Regions from separate parts of the Homo sapiens genome. Here region 2 is linked to region 1. The links come from fine-mapping of genetic effects on gene expression. A gene starts in region 1. The other region holds a variant in brackets. All regions are shown on one strand. Distances are between the middles of the regions.

Evidence for each region. PIP is the estimated chance that this variant, and not a neighbour inherited with it, causes the effect.
Region 2: its variant is fine-mapped to the expression of PYCARD in whole blood (TOPMed, PIP above 0.99).

What each region holds. Positions count from the first base shown.
Region 1 is chr16:31,201,031-31,203,935 of GRCh38, forward strand. PYCARD (PYD and CARD domain containing) reads right to left here and starts at 1,730. Exons shown (of 3, transcript NM_013258.5): 1 at 1,387-1,730; 2 at 1,117-1,173; 3 at 456-811. The coding sequence starts at 1,660. The coding sequence ends at 555. PYCARD-AS1 (PYCARD antisense RNA 1) reads left to right here and starts at 855. Exons shown (of 2, transcript NR_102400.1): 1 at 855-956; 2 at 1,430-2,422. RefSeq lists enhancers at 561-1,191, 1,381-1,610 and a silencer at 1,721-2,080.
Region 2 is chr16:31,247,391-31,250,295 of GRCh38, forward strand. No RefSeq gene overlaps it. Among named protein-coding and RNA genes, the nearest start is that of ITGAM, 11 kb to the right of the region's middle. The variant C/T (reference allele first, on the strand shown) is at 1,436.

The sequences.
Region 1 (2,905 bases):
ACCAGAAGGAGCCCTCGAGCAATTTGGTGACTTGTGCTCTTCTGTCCTATGTTTAGATAATGCTCTAATGTGTCTCCCCCTGCAAATTTCTCTAATTCTGCATTTTTCTCCAGTGGAAAATGTGGAAGGTAGGGGAGCTATGAAGACTAGTGTGTTTCTAAATGGCTTGGACAGAGCTGCCCACCAGTTTGCGCCCTTTGGTACATGCCTCTTTTAACCTTCGGACCTGGGTCACAGGCTGTTATCTATAATGGTAAGGTTAGACCCTTTAGGGAGCACTGGAGGAGCACCACCTGGTGAATGAGGAGGGATATTCCATGGCGATACCAGGAAGGATGGGGGAAGCATTTGGGGTGCCAGAGACCCTAGGGACATGGAGCTGGAGGCTGGGTGGCCTCTGAAGCATAGCTGAGCTCTGCACATGCCAGCAGGCTAGAAGCAGGAAAACACACAAGTTCAAGCTGGCTTTTCGTATATTGTGTATAAAAAGATCAGATTCAGGATGATTTGGTGGGATTGCCAGGGGCTGACCGGAGTGTTGCTGGGAAGGAGCCTCAGCTCCGCTCCAGGTCCTCCACCAGGTAGGACTGGGACTCCCTTAGGGCCTGGAGGAGCAAGTCCTTGCAGGTCCAGTTCCAGGCTGGTGTGAAACTGAAGAGCTTCCGCATCTTGCTTGGGTTGGTGGGCTCGGCCCGCACTGCCTGGTACTGCTCATCCGTCAGGACCTTCCCGTACAGAGCATCCAGCAGCCACTCAACGTTTGTGACCCTCGCGATAAGCGCAGCCCGGTGCTGGTCTATAAAGTGCAGGCCTGGGGGTGGGAGGAGAACATGAGCCAGCAGCCAGGGTGTGGGGCCTGTCCCTGCTGAACTTGAGTTCTTCAGGAATTCCTCTGCAAGCCTAGGGGCAGGGCTCCAGGGGGCGGCCACCAGGACCCCACATGCAGTGGGATGAGGGTAATATTGTCTCCCTTCCCCCGCAGGGTGTGGGTTGGTGGGTGGGGTGCGCAGGGTTGCCAAGCCGTGCCTGCCCTGCCCTGCCCTGCCCTGGTTGCGGGAGCACAGATGCAGGCTGTGCAGGAGTGCGGTGGGGCCGGGCTGGGTGTGGAGGCCTCACCTGGCTTGGCTGCCGACTGAGGAGGGGCCTGGATCCCAGCTGGCGCGGCTCCAGAGCCTGGAAGGATATGGGCCAAGTGATCCCCTTCCCTTCCCTTCCCGCCGTGGGGCCGGGGTCCCGTTGGTCGGTAGGCCAAGCGTGGGGAGCCTCCTTTCCGGTAGAGCAGCTTTGTTTAGGGGTAGGAGGAACAGAAAGCGGAAGAGCCCGCGGGGTAAGCGCTGGTGTGGGTGGAGGGGAAAGACGGGGTGGAGGGGAACGGGGGCGGCTCACCCTGGTGCGTGGCCGCCTGCAGCTGCCCGGCCATCTCCTGCAGGCCCATGTCGCGCAGCACGTTAGCGGTGAGCTCGGCGCCGTAGGTCTCCAGGTAGAAGCTGACCAGCTTGTCGGTGAGGTCCAAGGCGTCCATGGACAGCAGCGCGCCCCGCGGGATGCGCCCGTAGCCCTCGCGCAGCGGCACCGACAGCAGCTTCAGCTTGAACTTCTTGAGCTCCTCGGCGGTCAGGTTCTCCAGCGCATCCAGGATGGCGTCGCGCGCGCGCCCCATGGCTCCAGGATCCCCGGCCGCTGCCGCCGCTCACCCCGCTGCAGCCGCCGACCAGGAGGAAGTCGGCTCCGGGGCGGAACCTGGACTCCCCGCCTTCCTCCCACTCTGGTCTCCCGACTCCCCGCCCCGGTCCGTTGCCCTCCAGCAAAAGGCGCTTCCTTACTACACCCTTGGTCCCCTCCCACCCAGGCCTCTGGATTGGGGCCCCAGGCCGTCGGGGGACGCCAGGATCGCGCCCTCCAGCTGGCCTGCGAGGTGGGACCCGGGAGGGGGCCGCAGAGGGGCTCATGGGTGGCGCCTGCTTGTCTCTGGGCTTGCACCAGCGGGTACAGACCGGAAACCTGGGCTGGCTCTCACTGGGTTTATTGGAGCACCTAGGCTTAGAACCTCGGATTTCTAGAACCCCGAAACCTCCGCGGTTCCCCGAACCTTAGGATCCTCTCCCACATGTCGTAGAATCTTGGAATCATGACAGCTAGAAGCGTGAAGCTCCCTCAATTCCACATACTGGGGAAAAATGAGTTGTACAAAAGGGCAGAGAGTGCAAATCTCTCTGAGCTTCAGTTTCATTTTCTACGACATGGGGATAACCCTCCGGTGCTTATAAATATTCCAGCATAACATGGCCAACCCGATGGCTCCCGAAACCTTGCCAGATGCTTCCTAGGGGAGCCAGAATTTGATCCCAACACTGATTAAAAAAAAGAAAAAAGAAAGAGAGACAGCCTCCAGGAGATTAAAGACCATGAACTTGAAGCCATACAGTTCTTTGTTTGAATCCTGACTCTACTTCCCAAGGGGGATATTTGGAATCCTTTATTTTTCCCTCTCATCTGGGTTGTAACAATCACTGTTCCTTGTAGTCATACGACCCTGACATATTATACGTTTATATGCTTATTGGACATTCATCCCTCTCTAAAATGTGAGGCCTATGAGCATCGGAGACCTTAACTGTCTTATTCTTTGCTGAATTCCTAGCGTCAAGAATGTACCTGGAAATAGCTGTGTGTGGTGGAGGGCGCCTGTAATCCTAGCTACTAGGGCGGCTGAGGCATGAGAATCGCTTGAACCTCGGAGGCAGAGGCTACAGTGAGCCAAGATTGCACCACTGCACTCCAGCCTGGGTGACAGAGCTAGATTCCATCTGAAAAAAAAAAATGTATCTGGAACACATTAGGTGCTGAGTAAAGATTTGCTGAGTGAAGGAATGAATGAGGCTGTGATGCCTGCAGCATGTTGTAT
Region 2 (2,905 bases), 46 kb after region 1:
AGTAGCTGGCACTACAGGCATGACATACATCTATTAATGCTACCTTATTAGCTGTGTCGTTCACATCAACCAGTTAATTTGCATGTCTATAACTACATCTGAATTTGTGCGCGCTCTCTCTCTTTTTTTTTTTTTTTTTTTACGGAGTCTTGCTTTGTCCCCCAGGCTGGAGTGCAGTGACATGATCTCAGCTCACTGCAACCTCCGCCTTCTGGGTTCAAGTGATTCTCCTGCCTCAGCCTCCCGAGTAGCTGGGACTACAGGTGCTCGCCACCATGCCCGGCTAATTTTTGTATTTTTTAGTAGAGATGGGGTTTCACCATGTTGGCCAGGATGGTCTTGATCTCTTGATCTTGTGATCCGCCCGCCTTGGCGTCCCAAAGTGCTGGGATTACAGGCGTGAGCCACCGCACCCCGCCAGCATTCTTTGTCTTGTCCACAGCTGAAGTTTCCATTATTTATTTATTCAACCAAACTTCATCAAACTCCTTTTTAATGTAGCACATACCATGCTCAGTCTTAGGCGTATGCATTTGGATAATTCAAAATTGTTGCCTTCAAAAAGCTATAGTGAGAGAAATAACCTCATAAACAATAAGATCACAGTGTGAGGACTGCTAATAGAGCTGTGTGTAACAGAGCTTGGGGTTAAGCAGGAAAATTAGGGCAGGCTTCTCAGAAGAGGTGACAACTTGAGTTGGCCCTTGGAGAGCAAGTAGGAGTTTCTAAGGAAAACAAAAAGAAGCAGAAGGATGGTATTCCAGACACACCCAATAGTCAATTGTACTATTAGTTTGATGCAAACGTAATTGCGGTTTTGGCCATGACTTTAATTACTTTAGTTACATTTGCACCCACCTAATAATTATCTGAAACTGCATGACAAATGACCCTAAGCTTAGAGGCTTAAAACAACAGTAATCATTTCTTATCTCCCTTGATTTCTTTTCTTAAATTTAAAAAAATTTTTGGCCGGGTGCAGTGGCTCACATCTGTAATCCCAGCACCACAGTAGCAAAAATAGCTGCAGTGGTTCCAGGTTTTACATCACACTAGGAGGAGAAAAAACATCTTTGTCCTGAGATCCACTTTGATTAGACACATGCCCACACTTGAACCAACGACTTATGTCAGAGCGATAGAATAGTTGGATTGTCTTAGTGTAGTTCACATGCTCCACCCTCAGACCTGGGGCAAAGTCAGTTCTTCCCAAACCACGTAGTCCTCCAAGTGGAAATTGAGAGTCGCTGGGAAGGGGGAAACTGGATGCTGGGGAGATAACCACAAGTGTCCACACAAACTCAATTGTGATGTGGTTCATCTAAGCAACACTCAGTGAGCCCCAGCCAGATAAGGTGCTGGGTCCTGGGATAAAGCCATGAGCAGGACATAGTCACTGCTCTCAAGGCAGCCATTGTTTATCACCCCCCAAGAA[C/T]GTAAGCTCCTTAAAGGTAGGGAGGTTTCCTCTCTCGTTCACATCCATTTCCCTGAGCCTGGAGCAGCACCTGGCACATAGTTAATACCTGTTGAATGAAGAGTCTAGTGGAAAGATGGGCATAATCTCCAAGTCATCACACCATATACAGTTTAATGCTAGCTCTAGGGACTTTGAGGGGCCAGGGTGTGTGATCCACCCTTTTACTTCTCCTCCTTTTTCTCTTCCTTCTGTTTGTGGCTCCCCCAGGGTGAGAGATTGAGAGGAAAGAATTGAAGGGATGGCAGGGGTTCCACATGACTGGTACCCATATGTGGTTGGAAATGCCCTGACTCTCTCTAGACTCCAAGCTGGGTCCATCTCTTGCTTGTGGTCCCCAGTAGCTGAAGTACAGCTGAGGTGTTCCTGGGGTTGCTATTTAGCTTAACCATGGCTCTCTCCTCTGCTGAGGAGCCCCTTGGAGTGAGAGATGCCTGCCTCCCCTCAGGGCTTTGCCTCCACCCTTTCTCCAACCTCTGTATTCCTTCATGTGGAACCAGGAAGCCCCCCTCTCCCTCAATTTCCCACTTTATTTAAGGCACATAAAACTTTTCTGGAGGAAAGCTCTTGTTGAATCTGCAGCCTCTCCCCAAACCCCAAGGCCTGTAAAGCTCTGAATAGAGAGGCCCTGAGCTGAATGTGACAGTAATGATACTTATATCAGGTCAAGGATGCCTAAGGACCATAGTTACTTTGTCAAATTGTACAAGATGTTTCATCCAGAGCGTGCTTAGAGTAATGATAATGATATGTGGCAGAGAGAGCTAGTTGCCCCCATGTGCTTTCCTCTTCTTCCTTTAGTAATGCAACCCCATTAATTAGCACACAGATACTTAGGATAACATCACATTTTCCAGTCACCACTGCAGTTGTGTGTGGCCATGTGACTAAGTCCTGGCCAATGAGATGTGAAGGAAATGATGTGTGCAACATTTGGTCTCACCTTTAAAGGAAAGGGGCCTTCCCACCATTTTTTTTCTTTGTTATGAGACAGAGTCTCACTCTGTCACCCAGGCTGGAGTGCAGTGGCATGCTCTTGGCTCACTGCAACCTCCACCTTCCAGGTTCAAGCGATTCTCCTGCCTCAGCCTCCCAAGGAGCTGGGACTATAAGCGCCCGCCACAATGGCTGGCTAATTTTTGTATTTTTAGTAAAGGCGGGGTTTCACCATGTTTGCCAGGCTGGTCTCGAACTCCTGACCTCATGTGAACCCACTTCGGCCTCCCAAAATGCTGGGATTACAGGTGTGAGCCACTGTGCCTGGCTTTTTTTTTTTTTGATACAGATTCTTGCTCTGTTACCCAGGCTGGAGTAAAGTGGTGCAATCTTGACTCACTGCAGCCTTGACCTCCCAGGCTCAGGTGATCCTCCCACCTAAGCCTCCCAAGTAGCAGGGACCACAGGCACATGCTACCATGCCCAGCTAATTTT